2 separate regions of the Homo sapiens genome follow, and region 1 is linked to region 2. A link means that fine-mapping ties the variant in region 2 to the plasma level of a protein whose gene starts in the linked region. Region 2 holds a variant in brackets. A gene starts in the other region. All regions are shown on their forward strands.

Region 1 (5,376 bases), not on the chromosome of region 2:
ATGAAATAATCTGCACAACAAACCCCCATTACACAAGTTTACCTCTGTAACAAACTTGCACTTGTACCACTTAACTTAAAATTAAAGTTAAAGGGTGGGTGTGTTAGCTCACGCCTGTAATCCCAGCATTTTGGGAGGCTGAGGCAGGCAGATCATGAGGTCAGGAGATCGAGACCATTCTGGCTAACACGGTGAAACCCCATCTCTGCTAAAAATAAAAAAAAATAAAAAAACTTAGCCGGGTGTGGTGGCGGATGCCTGTAGTCCCAGCTACTCTACTCGGGAGGCTGAGGCAGGAGAATGGCGTGAACCCCAAAGGCGGAGCTTGCAGTGAGCTGAGATTGAGCCACTGTACTCCAGTCTGGGTGACAGAGCCAGACTCCATCTCAAAAAAAAAAAAAAAGATTAAAGTTAAAAAAAGAAAAGAAAACATTATGCCATAAAGTATTTTTATCTTAGATTTTTTAAAAATTAATTGCTTGTTTAATTTTCACAAGATAAATATGTAATGATACCAAGTATACCCGACTCTTCCCTACTATATCCTTTGTTAACGGAAGAATATTTCTGAATCTCTTATTTATAGAAAAAAATAGGAATCATTCTCTGGTTGTAATCATTTTAAAAGGTATAACTACTTTTTGTAAAAGCAGAAAAAATTTGGATTAATTTAACAAATGCATATGAACCAGTGAGAATAAACAATGTTAACATTTGTCATCTTTGTTTAATATCGTTAGTTTTTGTTTTTATTTTTTGAGACAGTTCCCTGTTCTATCACCCAGGCTGGAGTGCAGTGGCACAACTCACTGCAACCTCTACTTCCCAAGCTCAAACAATCCCCCACCTTAGCCTCTTAAGTAGCTGAGACTACAGGCATGTGCCACCATATCTGGATATATATATATATATATATATATATATATATATATATATATATATATATATATATACTTTTTTTGTAGAGATGGGGTCTCGCTATGTTGCCCAGGCTGGTCTCGAATTCCTGGGCTCAAGTGATCCTCTCATCTCAGTCTCCCAAAGTGCTGGGATGACAGGCTTGAGCCACCACACCAGGCCCATCATCAGTTTTTATATAAAGAAAAAAAAACCTTAAAATTGTTAGGCAAATACTATGACAAATTGTAATATATATTCTTACATTTCAGATTTTTATTTTTTAAACTGTATAAGAATTGATTAATAAATAAAATTTAGTATTAATCTGTCTTTTAAAACCATATATAAAGTTTATCAAATAGCTTATAACTTCTTGCAACTGAATTTTTGTATTCAATGTTATGGCTTTGATACTAGTCCAAGTTGAAATATAGATATCTACTTTATTCGATTTAAATTCTGTTTAGTATTTTATTATATTTTGTTAATCCATTTGTCCCAATTCATATACTTATCTCTCTTTCTGTGAATATTCAGGTTAGTTTTTTCTTCCTAATTTTGCATTCTGATTGGCTTTTATTCCCTGAATTATAAATGACTATTCTATGATGATTCTGGTAAATACTCAATTTCACCACACAATCTTTGACTTCATACTAACAAACAGTTGACTTCAAATGGACAATTTCAATGAAGCCTGACTTCATATTTAGCTCCTTTAAGCTTCCTTAGGCATCAGCTCTCTACAATTCTCACATTGAGAATATGTGTATTTTGTTAGCTCAAACCTTGTTAGACATGTTAAATGTTTAGAAATATAAATTTAACCTACCCCTTGAGGTAGGTCTTGAGAGGTTTGTGAGCCTAAAAAGACATGGAGGAACCACTTATTGCCACAAGCACATTGTTCTAAATTATTTGGAATCAGTTAATTCTTCCCCATCTCCTACCCATGCCTGACACCAAAGAGGAGCCTCTAAATTTACAGGGAATACAAGGAAGTCTACTGTTCTCTGCTCCTCTCTGGGTTATTAGGGCACATGGGAGCCCTCAGTTGTTTTCTGCTGAGCAAGAGCAAAGTCCACCTTGGACTTAGACAGCTTGCCAAATTTTTTGCCAGAAGGGGACCTGAGTTGTGACCACTCCCAGTGTGTGCCGGGAAAAGGCTCGTACTGGTGCCAGAATCTCTTACTGTCAATGCTCCCAAAACTCACCGCTTGCCCCCACCCCTTTTGCTTAAATGACGTGGTTCTTATCTCAGATCCTGATATAAAGCTCCTACAGCTACCTGGCCTGAGAAGCCAACTCAGACTCAGCCAACAGGTAAGTGGGCATTACAGGAGAAGGGCGTCTCTAACATGCACTGTAGATCTAAAATCTTCGGGAAGATACAGCATGAGTTTCTGTCCAAGAGGTTTTAGCTGTAATGAAGCCTCAGTGGGATCCAAAGTTGTTTTTCAGTTACTGAGTCTGTATAATCCCCACTCTCAAGAGAAACATTTGAAGGTGTGGGTGTCTCAGAGGACCTTCCTGGTCTCAGAAATTCTGAGAGGAGGTTTTAAGGAAGGTAATAGGTGCTTTGCTCTCCATCTCTCAGAACCCCCTTCTCTGTGTTCTCCTATAGAGATTGTTGATTTGCCTCTTAAGCAAGAGATTCATTGCAGCTCAGCATGGCTCAGACCAGCTCATACTTCATGCTGATCTCCTGCCTGATGTTTCTGTCTCAGAGCCAAGGTAAGATCTCTTTTCCACCAACCAACTCTTTCTAGCCCTGAAGACTTCACTCTATCCCCAAGCATACGGGTCTACTTGAAAAAAAAAAAAAAAGCAGAGTCACTGTTAAGGGTTGTTTTGTGGTGTTTAGTGATCTTTATTGCTGATCTCTTCACATTTATATACATCCACACCTCATTAAGGAGTTGGAGCTAGAATTTAAAATGACCCCTTATAAGCAACTGCTGCAGTTGGCATGAGTTTATCTGATTAAATTTATACGTGATGGTGGATTTGGGGATGTCTGTGTGTAGACAGTCACTAATGGGGTGGAGAACTGAAGAGAGCCTTGTGTTCAGGGAAACCAAGTCAGGCTTGAGAAAGTAGAAGGCTGAGTCCTTCAAGGTAGAAGAGCCTGAGCTCCAGACATAAAAGGGAAACTGGAGACTTGTTTCTTTGGCCTATTCATTCTGTTTTTTTTCCCCTGATCAAAGAAACCAAAGACAGAAGATGTAGGATGCAGGAGCAATAGTGAGCAGTCATCCCATAATAGACTGGATTCTTCTGTTTCTATAAAGGAACCTCAGAAGCTCTTACCTCACCTTCAAGCCTTTTCCTTACCCTGAGAGCCTCCTTTAATTGTCTCTTCTTTTTCAGGCCAAGAGGCCCAGACAGAGTTGCCCCAGGCCCGGATCAGCTGCCCAGAAGGCACCAATGCCTATCGCTCCTACTGCTACTACTTTAATGAAGACCGTGAGACCTGGGTTGATGCAGATGTGAGTGAGGAGAGCAGTGTGGGAAGGGAGACTCATGAAGGGAGGGGAAGCTGCCACTCTCCAGTGTGTTCAGTGGCTGCAATGAGATGAGACTGAACCCCTTGCTATACTATCATCAGCCCCAAACTTTCCAATCTACTTTATCCCATTATTCAGCACATTCCCAGCACAAAGAACCTGGTGGTCAGTGACAGCATCATCACGGACATTACTCTGCTGTCCTTTTTCTGACCCGTCCTCTTGGAGGACTCAGTATATCCGTCACAACTTCCTCCTCCACTGAGTGCTCCATTTTCTTCTGCAACAGCTCTATTGCCAGAACATGAATTCGGGCAACCTGGTGTCTGTGCTCACCCAGGCCGAGGGTGCCTTTGTGGCCTCACTGATTAAGGAGAGTGGCACTGATGACTTCAATGTCTGGATTGGCCTCCATGACCCCAAAAAGGTAGGCTGCAGCCTTCTTTATCTCCTAATGATCAGGTTTGAGAAGTAAGAAGGAGGTTCAAGTTCTGGTCTCTTAAGTACCAGCTTTTATCGCTTTCCAGAAATCAGGCTGTTTACAGATCCTCTAATGTCCTGTGTAGCAAGGTGCACTGTAGATGATTGGAGATATAAGTGGAAGGCTGAATTTCCTAGGTGTTCTTGTCATTCATGAATAAACTTATTCTGTTTTCAGTCAACAAAGCATCTTTATGCACCAACTTCTTACCTATTTTGTTACTGTCAGAGTCACAAGAGAGACTAGATTGCCGACTATATAGGAAAGGAGACTTGTGGTAAAAATCTGCTGCTGTACTGCTGGCATTTGGGAACCTGGTAGTATACTAAATAATATAATATATCAACAACTAATGGTCAGCCAATGCTATGCTGGATATGAGGGTCCTGGGCCACAAAGACAAAAAATCAGGAACCACTTTTTAAGTGAGATACTTTGGGTCTCTGTCAAATTCATAACACTTATTTCTTGGTGGAATACAGTTAATGAGTTGGACAGTTCAGGAAAGAAGTTTAGAGCAATAGCAAAGGAAAGGAAACAATATTTAGCAAGGTTTATTCTTCCTTTGTGTCTTAGCATGTTTCTGAGTGTGCACACAGGCCCAGTGATTCCATGTATTTTTGAGTGACCACTGCCTCTGTTCTGGCCCTTCCCCATCTAGAACCGCCGCTGGCACTGGAGCAGTGGGTCCCTGGTCTCCTACAAGTCCTGGGGCATTGGAGCCCCAAGCAGTGTTAATCCTGGCTACTGTGTGAGCCTGACCTCAAGCACAGGTGAGAGGCAGAGAATCCATCCACCTGTTTCTGTTCTCTCCTGCTTAGCTCCAGGGATGGAACTGGGACTGGGATAGAGGAAAGGTGAACTCCTCATTAAGGAAATGGATGTTTGGTTTTTGTCCTGAGTCCTAAAGCCAGGAGGGTCATACTCTTTCGGGTCTCCCAGTTGTAACTCTTCTCATTGACTTATAGGATTCCAGAAATGGAAGGATGTGCCTTGTGAAGACAAGTTCTCCTTTGTCTGCAAGTTCAAAAACTAGAGGCAACTGGAAAATACATGTCTAGAACTGATCCAGCAATTACAACGGAGTCAAAAATTAAACCGGACCATCTCTCCAACTCAACTCAACCTGGACACTCTCTTCTCTGCTGAGTTTGCCTTGTTAATCTTCAATAGTTTTACCTACCCCAGTCTTTGGAACCCTAAATAATAAAAATAAACATGTTTCCACTATTGTGCTGTCTTACTGTGTCTGCTATTTCCACAGCTGATGCCTGGGTGGTTGAGATGAGAGTGATTACAACAAAGCTTGCTCTGGCCTATCCACTTCTTAAAAGTCCATCCGCATACCATGCATATTGGAATTCAGTATTTATGAACATATGTGGCTTTGCTTATGACAAGGTTAACAAGATGGAGATTGACCAAAAACTCACATGCTGGCATATCTCAAAGATTTTTGCATTCAGTTCCAGATCACTGTAATAAGGG
Region 2 (5,376 bases):
AGACTTCCAGGCTCCTCTCCTTCCCCAGGCTTTGGTCAATCTCATCCTTTTCCCAGTGTGCTGGGATTCGCTCTCCTCCAGACCTCCCCAAAGGCAAGTGAGCTCCCCAAGGGCAAGGCCTGTGTCCAGCTCCTCCCTGTGGACTCAGGCTTGGCACAGCATCTGCACAGCTCATGAGCAGTCGACAGCTGTGTCAGGGATGCCAGAAAACTGATCCTGATCTTTTCTTTTTGTCAACAGCTCCTTTTCTCAACATCACCCGTCCAAACAGTAAGTTCTGAGCTCCCTGACAAGTCTGTGGCAGAGTGGCCTGGAAATTCCCCTTCCCATTTCCTCAGTGACAATGGGGCTGGGGAGGAGATGGCTTCCCCCAAAGTGGTCTCCCTGCAAGAGTGCCCTGCCAGCCCTCAGTGGACGGTCCAGATCTAGGCCACCTCTTGCTCTTACTTGGTTTCTGTCTTGGGAATTATTTTATAAAATTTTAAAGTAATTTAAATTTAAAGTAGTCCGCAGGTAGACTGTGCAGTGTGCTCTGGGGGTCACCGACATTCCCACTTTTTGTCCTGACAGCAGATTATTCCTGCGGAGGCTTCCTATCCCAACCATCAGGGGACTTTTCCAGCCCATTCTATCCCGGGAACTATCCAAACAATGCCAAGTGTGTGTGGGACATTGAGGTGCAAAACAACTACCGTGTGACTGTGATCTTCAGAGATGTCCAGTAAGTGTGCGCCCAGAAGAATGCCTTGGGGCCCCACAGACCTTTCAAGAGGGAATAAATGGTGCTTAAGTGTGCGCCCAGAAGAATGCCTTGGGGCCCCACAGACCTTTCAAGAGGGAATAAATGGTGCTTAGAAAGCCAGGAGAGAAGTTTGCTGAGAGACATTTTTGACCTAGCCCAGAGGCATCCCGTGGAGAGTTGGGGAGGGGGCACGAGAGCCTTGGAGTGGACAAAAGCTCTGGTTTCAAGTCCTAGGTCTTTCACCAATTTGCTGTGTGACCACAGGAAGTCACTCAACTTTCCTGAGCCTCAGTCAAAAGAGGGGAATAAAATACCTGCTTTCCTCACCTCACTGTTTACTGGGAAGGTCACGAGAAACAGAGAGGAGAGAGAGGGAGAGAGATGTGAAAATATTTACAAAATGTTGTCCAGTGGAAAAGATGGTTGTTAAGTAGTAATGATAGACTTAGGGGCAATAATAGCACTAATAATCCTATTAACAACCACACTGGCCAGGTATGCTGCCTCAGGGTTGTAATCCCAACACTTTGGGAGGCCGAGGCAGGAGGATCACCTGAATGCAGGAGTTCAAGACCAGCCTGAGCAATATAGGGAGACCCCCCATCTCTACAAAAAAGTACAAAAATTAGCTGGGTGTGGTGGCCTGCACCTGTAGTCCCAGCTACTAAGGAGGCTGAGGTGGGAGAATCGCTAGAGCCCTGGGAGTTGAAGGTTGTGGTGAACTATGATAGCGCCAGTGCACTCCAGCTTGTGGAACAAAACGAGACCCTGTCTCAGGAAAACAAAACAAAACAAAAAGAACAATTGTATCTGTTTTGTGGAACCCTTTTTCTCCACCCATTCCTTTCTTCATGTGAGTTCCCCAGGGGTCGGGCAGAGATGGAGGAATTGCTGCTCCAGAGGGTAGGGTATCTGCTCTGCATCCAATCATAAGTAGAAATCATCGTTTTAAGCAGAGAGGACATTACTAAAAGCACTTTTCTTTCTTTCTTTCTTTCTTTCTTTCTTTCTTTCTTTCTTTCTTTCTTTCTTTCTTTCTTTTCTTTCTTTCTCTCTCTCTCTCTCTCTTCTCTCTCTCTCTCTCTCTCTCTCTCTCTCTCTCTCTCTCTCTCTCTCTCTTTCTCTCTTTTTCTTTCTTTCTTTTTTTTTCCGGACATGGAGTCTCGCTCTGTCACCCAGGCTGGAATGTAGTGGCACGGTCTCGGCTCACTGCAACCTCTGCCTCCCGGGTTCAAGCGATTCTCCTGCCTCAGCCTTTCAAGTAGCTGGGCTTACAGGCACACGCCACAATGCCTGGCTAATTTTTGTATTTTTATTAGAGACGGGGTTTCACCATATTGGTCAGGCTGGTCTTCAACTCCTGGCCTCAGGTTATCCTCCCACCTCGGCCTCCCAAAGTGCTGGGATTACAGGTGTGAGCCACCATGCCTGATGTCAAAAGTACATTAATATATGATTTATCCAAGGAGGCGGGTGGCCCAGCTAACTGTGAAGAGGCACCAGTGTTTGCTAGTGTCCTGAACAAGGGGCTACACTAATTTCTTCTCTAACAGCCACTGTTGAACAAAATAGTTTTCCCTGTTGATTTCTGTTTGCAGTGGGCTTTGGAGTCTCTGCTTTAGTGATTCATTTGGGATTTTGCAAAAGATACATCATTTTATTCTCTTTGTCATTACAATACAAAG[A/G]TTGCACTTAAAGCTGATGCAGTCCTATGGGAAAAGGTTGACCATGACTGGTTCTTTAACCAGCATCTTGATAGCAATGACCATCACCATTTGTGACATTTTACAAAGCCCTTTTCTGTATGTTGTTTTATTTGAGCTTCACCATAGCCCTCTTCAGTGTGCATGGATCAGATTACTTTGCCTTTGTAAATAGGAAAAGCTTTAGAGAGATTATTTGACTTGCCCAGTATTTATTTATTCAATTATTTATTTCTCTCACTATGAATTCATGCATATTGATTTTATTCTGTGGGGGCACTAGGGACTTTTCGATGGAAGAAAAATGGTCTAAATCAGGATGCGAGCCCTTCCTTTCCTGATGTAAAGGGCTGACAGGTGAGGGGCTGTAGATTTCATATGTGTGATTGCAAAGGGCAGGACTAAGACCCAGGCATGGAGGTTGAGGGAAGATGAGACTCTCTTGATTTAAGGATACCTATGACTTTCTTTTGTTTCAATTTTTATTTTTCTTTTTATTTTTTGAGACAGGGCCTCACTCTGTCGCCCAAACTGGAGTGCAGTGGCACGATCTCGGCTCACTGCAACCTCTGCCTCCTTGGTTCAAGTGATTTTCCTGCCTCAGCCTCCTGAGTAGCCTCCCTCACCCTACAGGCTTGTGCCACCACGCCCGGCTAATTTTTGGATTTTTAGTAGAGACAGGGTTTCACCACGTTGGCCAGGCTGGTCTCGAACTTATGACCTCAGATGATCCACCTGCCTTGGTCTCCCAAAGTGCTGGGATTATAAGTGTGAGCTACTGCGCCCAGCCAAGGAGACCTATGACTTTCATCGATGAACTTTGTCAGAGTTTCTGGCACAGAGGTGTGACCCCACCCTGAGATCTGACCCCCTGCGTCAAATTCTGGGAGGAAATGAAGCCAAATGGTGTGTCCTCTCTCTGCAGGCTTGAAGGTGGCTGCAACTATGATTATATTGAAGTTTTCGATGGCCCCTACCGCAGTTCCCCTCTCATTGCTCGAGTTTGTGATGGGGCCAGAGGCTCCTTCACTTCTTCCTCCAACTTCATGTCCATTCGCTTCATCAGTGACCACAGCATCACAAGGAGAGGGTTCCGGGCTGAGTACTACTCCAGTCCCTCCAATGACAGCACCAGTAAGTCCCCTTGTGGAAATGCTCTGTTGGGACTGGGGACATCCTGAGAGCATCTGTGGCTCAACTGTCCTGTTGTTGTGAAATAAGAAATGAAGGAACCCTTTCAGGTCACCAGGGCTTGATTTTCAGCTGAAAGGGACCAGGAGCAGTGGGACTTGGGACTCTGGCTGCCCAGAAATAAAGTCAGGGCTAGAACTGGCTGATGGGTGATGATTGGTCTTACTGTGGTCAGCAGAGACTAAGTAGAGGGTCCCAGATGATGCTCTTCGTGGAGAGTGATGAGTCAGTGCCAAAGGCAGAGGTGACCTCTTGGCTTGAAACCTTGTGACCTTCTCAGAGTGTGGGACACTGTGGCCATGGCCTGAGACCTAACACATTTGGTTTCTATCTGAAGATGGACTGAGCTGGGTGGCTGGAAGTGGCTGAGATAAGGTCACTCAGACACTTCCAGCAGAGCCTGTATGGCCATGATTTGAGTTGCTGTATGGACTGATATGTAGAATGGCCAAGGGCCAGGCAAGGTGACATCCAGGGTCTCTTATGCAGTCAGGATTAAAGACTGACTTGCTTCATGGCTAAAAGACCTTGTTTCATGACATTCCCACAATTTGATCATACAGTTACTTTACTTTATAGATAAATGGTAACTTGGCCAAACATACCACTTATTTAAAAATCCTGCCTCCAATTCTCCATCAGAGAAATCCTGAGTCCACGTGCTCTCCTTGGGCTTTCATAAGGATGGGGCTGACTTGACCCTCGGGTCCTTGGGGGATTGCAGTGAGGTCTATGCCCACATCCTAAGTGCTGACCCTCCCTGTCAGCCACCCTGGTCTGTGCACTTTTTAAGTGGAAACAGCCTCTGGCCCCGTAGGACTTGTGGAGTCTGGGGCAGTGACTGAGTGCCTTATCTGTCCTTGTCTATCAGACCTGCTCTGTCTGCCAAATCACATGCAAGCCAGTGTGAGCAGGAGCTATCTCCAATCCTTGGGCTTTTCTGCCAGTGACCTTGTCATTTCCACCTGGAATGGATACTACGAGTGTCGGCCCCAGATAACGCCGAACCTGGTGATATTCACAATTCCCTACTCAGGCTGCGGCACCTTCAAGCAGGTAAGCCTGGGGCTTCCCATTCCATTTCCCAGTGCACAAGCTTTCTTAGAGCGGTATGTCCTGTGCTTCTTGAATTCTGGGGATGAAGAAATTATGATTTTGGGATAATCAGGACATAATTGGAATAAAGGAAGATAAAAAACCTTTGGTGCTATGATATGGCTGCAGCTACTTCCAAATAGGAAGAAGGAAGCTGAGCAGAAAGAGTATCTCCAGCTGTGTCCAGCAGAGAGGGCTTCTGGCAGACCGCCACTCCCATCAGCAATAACAACAGCAGCTCCTGGAGCAGCTCCAGATTTTGCAGGGCCTGAAGCTTATACAGTTAGGGTTGGGGGTGAGAGGCAGGTGTTGAGATGGGCAGGGGCCTCATTAAGTCAAAGAATGCAATATCTATGAACTTTTATAAACTTTGCAAAAACGTATGGCTGTGCAAACACATTGCTAGGCCTTGGAGGAGGCCTGCACATTGCAGTAGGCAGGGAAGAGGGGGCCCAAAAGCTTCAGCTTCATTAGCTCCATAGTCAGCTGGCCTCTGCAGCTACCATTTGTTGAGCTATCACCATCTAAGATGGCCCCCTGCATCCAATTTTGGGTGAAAGTGAAGCCAATATGGTGTGTCCCTTCTCTACAGGCTTGAAGGTGGCTGCAACTATGATTATACTGAAGTTTTCAACAGCCCCTACC

Direction of the effects. Positions count from the first base shown, and alleles are read on the strand shown. Strength reflects both the effect of a copy and how common the allele is.
In carriers of allele G in region 2, the plasma level of the protein whose gene starts at base 2,197 in region 1 tends to be higher than with A alone (moderate association).

Evidence for each region. A credible set is the group of variants that fine-mapping cannot tell apart. PIP is the posterior inclusion probability: the model's chance that the variant is causal. Protein levels are from antibody-based Olink assays in UK Biobank. Linkage for the fine-mapping came from a reference panel and not from the study's own genotypes, which makes the PIPs less certain.
Region 1: it holds the start of REG1A, and the variant in region 2 is the best candidate, but not a certain one, in a credible set for the plasma level of the REG1A protein (UK Biobank, PIP 0.54).

The regions. Positions count from the first base shown.
Region 1 is chr2:79,118,292-79,123,667 of GRCh38, forward strand. REG1A (regenerating family member 1 alpha) reads left to right here and starts at 2,197. Exons shown (of 6, transcript NM_002909.5): 1 at 2,197-2,223; 2 at 2,525-2,634; 3 at 3,271-3,389; 4 at 3,697-3,834; 5 at 4,550-4,661; 6 at 4,857-5,118. The coding sequence starts at 2,571. The coding sequence ends at 4,924.
Region 2 is chr10:122,632,621-122,637,996 of GRCh38, forward strand. DMBT1 (deleted in malignant brain tumors 1) reads left to right here. Exons shown (of 56, transcript NM_001377530.1): 51 at 241-270; 52 at 571-721; 53 at 3,371-3,579; 54 at 4,508-4,692. Among named protein-coding and RNA genes, the nearest start is that of SPADH, 38 kb to the right of the region's middle. The variant A/G (reference allele first, on the strand shown) is at 2,428.